Linked DNA regions of Homo sapiens. The protein of the gene in region 3 purifies or fractionates together with the protein of the main gene of each other region. This does not show direct contact. Each region holds a gene or a part of one and is shown on either strand. Other genes may lie near its edges.

Region 1 (3,746 bases), on a different chromosome or scaffold from region 3:
CAATCTCCTGACCTCGTGATCTGCCTGCCTCAGCCTCCCAAAATGCTGGGATTACAGGCGTGAGCCACAGCGCCAGGCCTTTTTTTTGTTTTTGTTTCTTTCTGAGATGGAGTCTCGCTCTGTCACCCAGGCTGGAGTGCCATGGTGCGATCTCAGCTCACCGCAACCTCTGCCTCCCAGGTTCAAGCTACTCTCCTGCCTCAGTGTCCTGAATAGCTGGGATTACAGGCGTGCGCCACCACACCCAGCTAATTTTTGTATTTTTAGTAGAAACGAGGTTTCATCATGTTGGCCAGGCTTGTCTTGAACTCCCGACCTTGTCATCTGCCCATTTTGGCCTCCCAAAGTGCTGGGATTACAGGCGTGACCCACCGTGCGGAAAGATTACATTTTAACTGGGTTGAGTGGGAGGGTTTATATATGGAAAGAACTTTTGCCAGGACACAAGACCTGGTCCGGTGAGAGCTGGGCAACTGTGAATGAGTCTCTTCCCTCTGCTTTTCAACTCCTCACCTATAAAATAGGGATGGTCCTTCTTGTCTACTTTATAGAAGTGCTTGTGGGGTACGGGATTGTGAGAAGTTTTATGAAAACGTGCACCCATGAAATGTTGCTTGAGGAACACTTATTTGTTTCCTGGTCTTCTCCCATTGGATTGTGAGCATCTCAGGGGCACCAAGTCTGATCCTGTGTCCAGGACCTAGCAGTTACCTGGCTCAGTGACTGGCTGTCGAACTAAACTATTGCTCTAATGTAATCACTTTGTATTACAAATCTTTGTAGATCAGTCATCTACGTCGGGGTTACCTAGAGAACTCTGACTAAAGGAAATCCATTGCATTTAGACACTATTACTCACAGTTTGTAGTGGTATCTCCAAATTTCAACACATTTTCCCTTTCCCACGTACATTATGCATTTGTGGGAAGTTCTTTTTTTTTTTTTTTTTTGCGTTCATTGATTTACAACATCTATATCTACATGGATGGCGTGGCTTCTTCATTTTCCTTTGTGAGTGCCTGCAAATCATCTTAATCTGATTTGCTAAGGTATCTGCTTGTTTTCTCATTAGACTGGGAAATGGAGAGGAAAAAGAAAAAAAAAGGCCGGGCGCGGTGGCTCACGCCTGTAATCCCAGCACTTTGGGAGGCCGAGGCCGGCACATCTCGAGATCAAGAGATCGAGACCATCCTGGCCAACATGGTGAAACCCCGTCTCTACTAAAAATACAAAAATTAGCTGGGCGTGGTGGCGCGCGCCTGTAGTCCCAGCTACTCGGGAGGCTGAGGCAGGAGAATTGCTTCAAGGAGGCGGAGGTTGCAGTGAGCCGAGATCGCGAGCCTGGCGGCAGAGCGAGACTCCGTCGCAAAAAAAAAGCGTCTGAAATGCTGTTTTACTGGCTCCGGTAGCGACGTACAGCGAAAGCCAAGGTCACTTCAAGTTTGTAATTGGTTACAATGTCTGTCAGTCACGTTGCCGGAAACCCTGTCCAATTATCCTGCTTGTACTGTGCCCTCCCTTTCCGATTGGTTTTGGGACCGGTTTAAGCTGGAAGGGTAGTCATTGGTTCGCCGCTCTGTCTCGGCCTGAGCCCGCCCCCGCTCGGTTGCCGTGGTTGCGGGCCCTGCCCGCCCGCCAGCTCGCTGACAGCACGACTCAGGGCGGAGGGAAGTAGGTCCGTTGGTCGGTCGGGAACGAGGCTCAGGCGGCCAGGCCCGCGCGGAGCCGTTGCCATGGCAGCCGCCGCCGGGGACGCGGACGACGAGCCGCGCTCAGGCCACTCGAGCTCGGAGGGCGAGTGCGCGGTGGCGCCGGAGCCGCTGACTGACGCTGAGGGCCTCTTCTCCTTCGCTGACTTCGGGTCTGCGCTGGGCGGCGGCGGCGCGGGCCTCTCGGGCCGGGCGTCCGGCGGGGCCCAGTCGCCGCTGCGCTACTTGCACGTCCTGTGGCAGCAGGATGCGGAGCCGCGCGACGAGCTGCGCTGCAAGATACCCGCTGGCCGGCTGAGGCGCGCTGCCAGGCCCCACCGGCGGCTCGGGCCCACGGGCAAGGAGGTGCACGGTGAGCGGCGCGAGCGGCGCGGGGGCCCGGGGCGGGGCAGCCCGGGCGAGGGGCGGGGCCTCAGAGGACCAGTGGCCGCGCTTTGGTCGCCCCCGACCCTCAGCCGGGGTCCCCCGACGTCTGCGCTGAGGGCCACACTGACCCTTGAGTCTCCTTTCAGTAACGATGGTGATGATGGTTTTTTTAGAAAGTCTTCCTGCTCTGAGCCAGTCACCCCAGTCTTCTCTCACTGGGTAATTTCTGAATGGAAACTTCCCATGACTCGGAACGCTTATTGGTGAATAATAAAATGAGGTACTGGGGAACACTTTTATTATCATGGAGAGGGGAGGCCAGAGCCTGCAGCCAAGTCGTACCAGCTTGTTTAAATGCACGGACTTGGACTCCTTTACCACAGTTAGACCTTAGGGCAAATGATAGACCCTTTCAACCTTAGTTTTCTTTTTAAATTTTTTTATTTTTATTTATTTATTATTATTATCTTTTTGGAGACGGAGTCTCGCTCTGTTGCCCAGGCTGGAGTGCAGTGGCGCCATCTTGGTTCACTGCAACCTCCGCCCCCCGGGTTCAAGCGATTCTCCTGCCTCAGCCTCCCGAGTAGCTGGGGTTACAGGCGCCCACTACCAAGCCCGGCTAATTATTGTAATTTTAGTAAAGATGGGGTTTCACCATGTTTGCCAGGCTGGTCTCGAACTTCTGATCTCAGGTGATCCACCCACCTCGGCCTCCCAAAGTACTGGCATAACAGGCATGAGCCACTGGCCCGGCCTCAGCCCTAGTTTTCTCATCTGTAAAATGGGATGAGTTAAGTAAGGTAATGGATGTTTAGCTGTTATGCTGCCTTTGCTGTGCCCCAAACACTGCTGATACATGATCATCTGTCCTCACAAGAACTCTTTGAGACATAGAAATTGTTCCCACTTTACTGAAGAGGAAACTGAGGCTCAGAGAAATTGTCTTATTCCAGGTCACATAGCAAGTGGCTGTTGCTGGTATTAGAATCCGGGTCAGCCCGACTCAAACTTCTCCTCTGGTATATCTACCATATTGTCTTCTACAATGCATGGGTGACATGGAAACCCAGGCACTGAGAGATTAAGAATGGGGACTTTGGGGATTTCTTCCAGGACTGGCTATGACTCTAGCCATATTTTAGTGATGTCACGAAGATGAAATAAGAATTTGGAAGCGTTGTATTGACCATAAAGTGCTGTATGAAAGCAAGGAATTGTCATGTATCTGAATTGCAATTTTTGACCATATCTCCGATGACAAAGACATTGCTTTCCATTAGCCATTGGAGGGGGAAAATCTGCTTAGGAAATACCAAATTTAGGCAAATCATTTGGGAACGACCTGCTTTGAAGGAGAATATAAGATTATCTGTGTAACCAGCTCACAAAGAGCTTCTGTGTAAATCATTTGCAATAACTCGGGGCTGGCAGAACAACTCAGCCTTGTTTTGCAGATGATAGACCTGAGGCCCAGCTGGGTTAACTAGCTTGCTCAAGGTCACCCTGTGACTACAAGTGATAGAGAGGAAATCTGGCTCCAAAAGTCTTGGAGGATTTGCAGGAGGATGTGGCCTTTGTACTAGCTCCGCCTCATTTCAAGTTTCTCCTTGTTCCCAGGGCACTGTCTTTCTTTTCTTTTTTTGAGACGAGAGTCTCGCTTTACCACCCAGG
Region 2 (3,646 bases), on a different chromosome or scaffold from region 3:
AACAGCAGAGTGGAGCCTGGGTCCTGGCTTCACGCCTGGGGACAGGCTCCCCCAGTGTGGTTGGGTAGAGTCAGCAGGGCCTCTGTGGGGTCCCAGGGACATATCTGGGAGGGGCTGGCACAGGCGCCCAGCCTGTGCACGTCTCCACCTCCCCTGCCAGCAGCCTGAGCCCTGACCTGAGATCCCACACAGCACCGTGGCACATCCACTGTCCACCCCGGGGCTTTGGCAAAGTCTGTTCTGTTGCTAAGAAGTAGAAAACGGGGAGATGGGGCCTCAAAGGGTCAGTGAGTGACCAGGGCAGATGTGACAGAGTCCTGGTCCACTACTCTTCAGCCACCTTGGCACAAGCTGCGCCCTGCCCTGACTGATGTGAGTTCCCACTGAATGTAGAAAGGTGTGACACTTGTCCCTACCCCTAGGGAATCCCAATCCCAGGACCCAACCTCCCCCCACCGTGGTTGTAATTTATCAGCAATCACCTCCAGTGGCCTGAGCAGGCAGAGCCTCTTGGTGGCTAAGGGGTGCTGTCATGGGAAACGGAGGTTTTCATGGTGAAGACATGCTCTTCCCACTGGGGCAGGCGGCCTGCAGAGGCAGGTGGTCTTGGTTCCAGGGGGCTGGCAGGAGCCCATGCAGCCAGGTGGCCACCTGGAGACACCACCACGCCATCCCCCGAGGAGCTCTGTAACCCGGCCTCCCTCACCCCCGCTCGGCACTCCGCTGTAGTCAGCGCTCCTGGTGGCTCTGACTCTGGCACAGGAAATAATAAGCCCCAGCCGACAGCTGTGGGAAGGGGGCTATGAGAGTGCCTCAGGGGATGTTGGGGGGTCAGGCTGCTGGAGCAACGAGCATAGGGCTCCTCCCATCCTGCACCGTGGAAGCCACCTTGCGCACACACGGCTTCACGCTGTGATGCCCTCCTTCCTGAGGATGTGAGCTCAGGGTGGTGGGATTGGGGCCAGGGCCAGAGAGCTCTCCACCTGCTGCCTCCTGCCTGCCTCATCCTTGCCCTGTCCCAGCGCCTGCACCTACCCGGCAGCTCCCAGGCACCCACAAGGCCCAGGCACTGGGACCATCCAAGCAGCAGGTGGCTTCTAACACAAGGATCAGGGCGAGGACCAGGGTAGCTGCCGGTGGTCCCTTGGCCATTTGGGGCTGAGGGAGAGGTGGCCTGGTAGCCTCTCAGGCCCAGCTGCACCTGCTGCCTGAACACGTGCCTCTCAGCTGCCCAGGAAGGGGGCAGGGCTCCCCAGCAGCTGCAGCTCCACCACGCAGCCGCCCTGGGCAAAGCATCAAGTCTAGCTCCTCCCAGCAGTCTCACCCCAGCCCACGCCATGGGCGACTATGCATCCTGGTGGTGTCTGCTTCCCACCCTCAGTTCCGTAGTGCTGAGGGGCCCGCGTTCTCTGTGCACAGTCCTGGGAGGCCCATGGCTTCTGCCCGGCAAGTCGGTCAGATGCTGGTTTGATTACTATGTCTAAGGGCACGGGTGAGCATTCAGGGTGCTTTGGTGGCTTCACCCACTTAGCACCTTGTTAAGACAGGGAGCCCCTTATGGACACTGTTGAGGTAGAGGATTCCTGTCTTGGGGATAAGCCCTTTGTTTCATCAAAATCTACTCCCTGGGTCTGACTTAGTTTGGGGGCATTTAATGCTTTGGTAAAGTTAATATCCTCTTACTCCCTGGCAAAACTGTTCATTACTCTTACCTCAAATGTACACTTGATTTGCTGAGGCTTTTTAAAAACAGGCCGGCCACGGTGGCTTACGCCTGTAATCCCAGCACTTTGGGAGGCTGAGGCGGGTGGATTACTCAAGGTCAGGAGTTCAAGACCAGCCTGGCCAACATGGTGAAACCCCGTCTCCACTAAAAATACGAAAATTAGCTGGGCGTAGTGGCACACGTCTGTAATCCTAGCTCTTCGGGAGGCTGAGGCATGAGAATTGCTGGAACCCAGGAGGTGGAGGCTGCAGTGAGCAGAGATCATACCACTGTACTCCAGCCTGGGTGAGAGAGCAAGACTCTGTCTCAAAACCAAATTCCTGGTCATGTCCTTTGAGAGGCACATCTGGGAGTCCTGCTCTGTGTGGTAGCTGAGCTCCTGGAACCTGACAGTGAGTCTGCCAGCATCCTCTCAACTCTGAGTGCCTATGATCCCAGTCTCAGTAACTGCTTCCTGCCCTCGTCTTTCCTCCTCTCTGGGTTCCTCATAAAAATGTCCAGGAGGAACCAACTCTTCTGGTCCTGGGTCACCTCCGAATGGCCACAGAGTCATGAGCTCCCTGGGCTGCGCAGCCTGATCCTGGACACTGCAGGGCTCTGGCTTGCCTGGTAGACGCCCCCTGCCATTGCACCGAGGGCCAGCCCTCCAGCAGCAGCAGCGAGAGCCTCAGGAGAGCACTGCTCCTGGTCACTAGAGGACACATGATCCACAAAGACGAGGCCGGTGTGGACCTGCAGCGTTGCATCGTCCACTGCTGCTCTCTCTGAGGGCCACTCCTCTGAGTCTCCCACGCGGTCCCTTCTAGTCACAGTGGAGGTCCTCAGGGCATTTTCCTGAAGCAGCTGGTTGGAACTTTGGCGGTTCCAATGGCAGAGCCAGAGGATTTCTGCTGCTTTCATGTTGCCAAGGAGCCCTTGAAGGAGAAGGTGCCCTGGGGCAGGGGTGAGTTTAGATTTCAGTTCTGCCACCTGCCAGTGGCACTGTGAGGGCTGGAAAGGGTGCCAGACAGAGAATGTGGACACCTGTGTTCTCTTCTAGACCTTCTCTGCCTCATCGTGACTTTGGATGAGTCATAGGTCATCTCTCTCTGTCCTCAGTTTCCCTCCTTTTTAAAAGTGAGGTGTTGGCCAGATGACTTCAAGGCACCTTCCCCACCATCCCCTAGTCCGTTGTGTGATAAAGCTCACAGGAGGTGGGGGTCAGGGCACCCTTCATTCCTGGGCCACCCTGTGCCACCCAGCTCCCTGGACCTGGCCCACAACCCCACCTCCTCTCATCTGCCCTCACCCCATGACATTGTCCACGTTCGCACAAGCTCCAGGGGACAGGGCCTCATCTGTCTTGTTCACAGTGAACTCCCCAAGACCTAGAGCAGGGTCTGGCGCTTGGTAGGTGCTCAGGGCACATTTTTGGACAAGTGAGTGCTGGCCAGGACGCCCCTCCAAGAGCGGACCCATCTCCAGCCAGGCCACCCCTCCAAGAGCAGACCCATCTCCAGCCAGGCCACCCCTTCAAGAACGGGCCCATCTCCAGCCAGCTTGTCCCACAGGTTCGGCAGTGTCTTCCCGAGCCTCAACATGGCTGTGAAGAGGCGGGAACAGGCCTTGCAGGACTACAGGAGGCTGCAGGCCAAGGTGGAGAAGTATGAGGAAAAGGAGAAGACGGGGCCAGTGCTGGCCAAGCTCCACCAGGTACCAGGGGAGACAGGTGGGCAGGGGCTAGACAGGTGGGCCATCGTGGTCACCTGTGGTAAGTCCCTCCCCTCACCTGGGGGCACCAAGACACCAGACGTCCCCACCCCACCCATCCCGTATCCGGCACCCAGCAGTGAGAGAGTTTTGACACCCAGGTCTTGTTCCCTAGGCACGAGAGGAGCTGCGGCCTGTGCGGGAGGACTTTGAAGCCAAGAACAGGCAGCT
Region 3 (3,646 bases):
AAACAAACAAACAAACAAACAAACAAATGTGTTGAATATCAACTCTGTGTCTGTGGCAAATGTGCTTCTAGGTGCAGGGATATTGTTGTGCACAGGCCCGGTCTCTGTCCTCATGGAGCTTGATATTTACCTTCTTGTCAGTTCATTCATTTTCTCTGTTTGCATCTCGTTTACCCATCATGCATGGTGTCATGCTGGGTTCTGAGAACACATAGATGACCAGGCCCCAGGCCTTGCCCTTGAGGAGCCGGTAGGCCCTTGGGAGACACAGACCCAACCCAGATAACAAGAGCTCAGAGTGGGGGCCTGTCTTGTGCTCCTTGCAAGTTAACCTCCCCACCTTTGCAGCTTTGGAAGCTACTCTCACCACTGTGTATTCTCTTTATGAGCGTCTTGTCTGTGTGCAGGAAGATCCCTGTCCCCATTTTGCAGATGAAGGAGCTAGTGTCCACAGAAGAGTGGTTGCACAGCCTGTGGCCCGGCTGGGACTGTCCCTTCCTCCTGCCACCTCCCCAAGGACACGTCCATGTTGGCCACTTCCCAAGCCTAGCCATGTTTTCAGTTCTCATGACCCCCTCTGTGGGGGAGGGACAGGATGGGCCTCTGCCTGTTACTGCTGGGGCTGTCCATGAACTGCCGGGGAAATGACTCATCCTGGGTCACACAGGGGCACTCTGGCTGGGCCAGGGGTGCAGAATCAGGGGTCCAGGGCACTGTCCACATGGCCTATCCAACTCCTGCTTCCCAAGCCTGGCTTCTCTTCTTGCCTGAGGAGAGAGCCAGTGGCTGCCCCAGCAGGTGCCTGAGTCCTGGGCACAGCTGGGAGGGCAGATGTCAGGAGAGAGGTGTGATCCTCCCTGGGGCTGCTTGGTAACTCGTCTGCAGGGCGTGGAGCTGGCTCCCTGGCCCTTGGGCCCTGAGGTTAGACCTGGCTTGGTGGGGAGTTTGACTCTGGGTGGGGCCAGGGGGCAGACCTCTGCACTGAGCCTGGGGAACAGGAAACATGTCACCCACCACCACCAGGGAGGGCCTGGGGTAAGCTGGCCTTGCTTTCCTTTACCAAGAGGTTGACTTCTATAACTTCTCCAGCTCCCAGCCTCCTTTCTCCCCTTGCTATATCCTCTTCCTCTTCCTTTCTTTCTGTTTTTTTTTTTTTTTCTCTCATCTCTACCTTTCTTCCTCCTCCTCTGAACTCCAGGAAACACAAACCTGAGTGCTAGTCTTGGCTCTGCCCCTAGATTGCTGTGCGTCCCCGGGGAGTGCCTTTGCCCCTCTGGGCCTTAGTTTCCTGATCTGTAAAACAAGGGAATGGGGTCCCAGTGAGCCATCAGGCCTTCAAGGGAGTGGGTGGGAAGGGACTCCTGGGGAGGGTATGGCTCAGAAACAGAATGACACCTTAGCTCTGGCTCTGAGCACTGGGGCAGGAGTAGGGCAGGGGAGGTGGCCAGGCCTGCTGGGGGCCCACTGGGGCAGGTGTCTCCCTGAGCACAAGTGGGAAGGCTGGTTCAACCAGCTCCTTAGATGGCTTGTTCCTGTGCAGGCAGCAGGAGGGGGAATGCAATGATTAAACAGATGCTCCCATGCAGTGGCTGGGGACCCCCCACCCAGAGCAGAGCTGAGGACATTAGGGCAGCCCCACACCTAGGAAGGACACCAGGGCCTCCCAGGCTGGGGGGAAGCCAGACCAGCCTTTCTGACCCTGGGCAGAGAGACAGAGCTGAGATAGGCCATTTCTGAGTTTCTACTTGAGGTGTTTCTAAGAGTCAGAGGCCACTGTCCTCTGTGCTGGTGCATTTGACCTGAAACAGAGGCCAGCCCACTGCCTTCCCTCCCCGGGAGGACCCCTCCCAATGGGCCAAGCCCTCTCTGGCTTACTCTAAGTTCTGGGCTCTGCACTGCTCCTCCCAGGCCTGTGGTGTGGGGCAAGTTAGGGAGGGGGTACTGAGACAGAACTGGACAGGCTTTGGGGACCACAGCCCAATGGGAGTGATAAGGAGGGGGTCCTAATGCTGGCCTTAGGGGTGGAGCCCTTCTCAAAGAAAAGAGAAGAACAGTTGGGTCCTGGGCCCCCAGGATTCTGTCCAGCCTGTCTGGACATCTGAATGGGTGGTGAGTGTGTGGGAGGAAGGACAGTGGAGGCCTAGGTGGGAGTCAGGAGACCAGGATTTGGACAAACTTTGCATCTGACATGACTTTGGGAGAGATTTCTCCCCTCAGTCTCTAGGTGAGTAAAATGGGACCCGAGGGTCTTCATTTCCTTAGGAGGGCTCCATGTCATGTGAAACTTACATTAAACAAATTTGTATGCTTTTCAGAAAAATAATAAAATGAAATAAAATGGGACATAAACCCTGGCTGGAGCTGAGAGGAGCCTGGTCCTCCCACGGGCCTAGTCCCTGTAGCCCAATCCAGGGGTCTCCTAAGAGAAGGGTAACCATATAATTAACCAGGGCAGTTTGGGGCATAAAAGGGGGCCCTAGCAATAGTGATCCCGGGACAACAGGGGAAAGTAACTGTCCAGGGCAAGCTGGGACGTATGGACCCCCAACTTGACAGCCAGCAAGAGCGGGGCTGGTCCTAAGGCTCACGACAGGTCAGGAGGGCGATGTGGTCACTTCCGTTTTACAGACGAGGTGCAGCGATGCAGATGAGCCTCAGAGCAGGAGCTGGAGTCCAGTGTGTCTGGCTCCGCAGCCCAGGCTGTTTCCACTGTGCCCTCCCAGATGGGGGAGGGGATCCCCAGGGATGGAGAGCTGAGCCAGAAGGCGAAAGAGGAGGGAGGAAGGCTTGGGTGCTCCTTCACTGGTCCTGTGGGCTAGAGAGAGGCCCAGGACCACAGAGCTTCCATGGAGGGGCCATAGGGACAGCGTGGCCAAGGCAAAGTGGCGACTGTAGGGACAAGTTCTTGCCTGGGGGATGGGTGGGTTCAGCCTCTGGGTTCTGAGCCATCATCTAGCCTTCCCTCTACCGCTCATCCTGTAATCTCAGCACTTTGGGAGGCCGAAGTGGGCGGATCACAGGAGTTCGACACCAGCCTGGCTAACATAGTGAAACCCTGTCTCTACTAAAAATACAAAAAAATAGCCAGGCATGGTGGCAGGTGCCTGTAATCCCAGCTACTTGGAAGGCTGAGGCAGAAGAATTGCTTGAACCCAGCAGGCGGAGGTTGCAGTGAGCCGAGATCAAGCCACTGCACTCCAGCTTGGGCAGCAGAACAAGACTCCATCTCAAATTAAAAAAAAAAAAAAAAAAGAAAAGAAAAGCAGTTTTCAAGCCATAACATGTAGCATCTGGAGCTTCTATTGTATCTCAGGTGCGCTCCTTTGAACTGTGTACATATTAGTTCAGTTAAGCCTCAACTATACTATAGGGCAGGTACTATTATTATCCCATTTTACAGATGTGGAAACTCCTTAAAGCACTATACCGTGTGAGAGGTTGTCAACAGCATCACATCTAGTGCAACCTGTCCCACTGGGCAGTGGGGAGACCTGGAGCCCAGGCAAGAGCAGTGGCTTGCTGGAGAGGATACAGCTAGGACTAGGACTCAGACCTCCTGCTCCCTCCTGCCCCCAACCTGGGGTGGATGTTAACTGTCTCCAAGAGGCAGGGGCAAGATGGATTGAGGTGGGAGCTTAGGGAATAT

Evidence for each region.
Region 1: the proteins of SNX33 (region 3) and ANKRD54 purify together in Homo sapiens (affinity purification with mass spectrometry; 2 studies listed by BioGRID and IntAct, with this or other methods). This does not show direct contact.
Region 2: the proteins of SNX33 (region 3) and BIN3 purify together in Homo sapiens (affinity purification with mass spectrometry; one large-scale study listed by BioGRID and IntAct). This does not show direct contact.

The regions. Positions count from the first base shown.
Region 1 is NC_000022.11:37,842,226-37,845,971, reverse strand, and holds the start of ANKRD54 (ankyrin repeat domain-containing protein 54), read left to right. Parts: upstream 1-1,637; 5' UTR 1,638-1,733; coding exon 1,734-2,061; intron 2,062-2,123; exon of another isoform or gene 2,124-2,355; intron 2,356-3,746. UniProt on the Homo sapiens protein: Plays an important role in regulating intracellular signaling events associated with erythroid terminal differentiation.
Region 2 is NC_000008.11:22,623,994-22,627,639, reverse strand, and holds part of BIN3 (bridging integrator 3), read left to right. Parts: intron 1-2,227; coding exon of another isoform or gene 2,228-2,339; exon of another isoform or gene 2,340-3,270; intron 3,271-3,276; coding exon 3,277-3,418; intron 3,419-3,590; coding exon 3,591-3,646. UniProt on the Homo sapiens protein: Involved in cytokinesis and septation where it has a role in the localization of F-actin.
Region 3 is NC_000015.10:75,650,864-75,654,509, forward strand, and holds part of SNX33 (sorting nexin-33), read left to right. Parts: intron 1-3,646. UniProt on the Homo sapiens protein: Plays a role in the reorganization of the cytoskeleton, endocytosis and cellular vesicle trafficking via its interactions with membranes, WASL, DNM1 and DNM2. Acts both during interphase and at the end of mitotic cell divisions.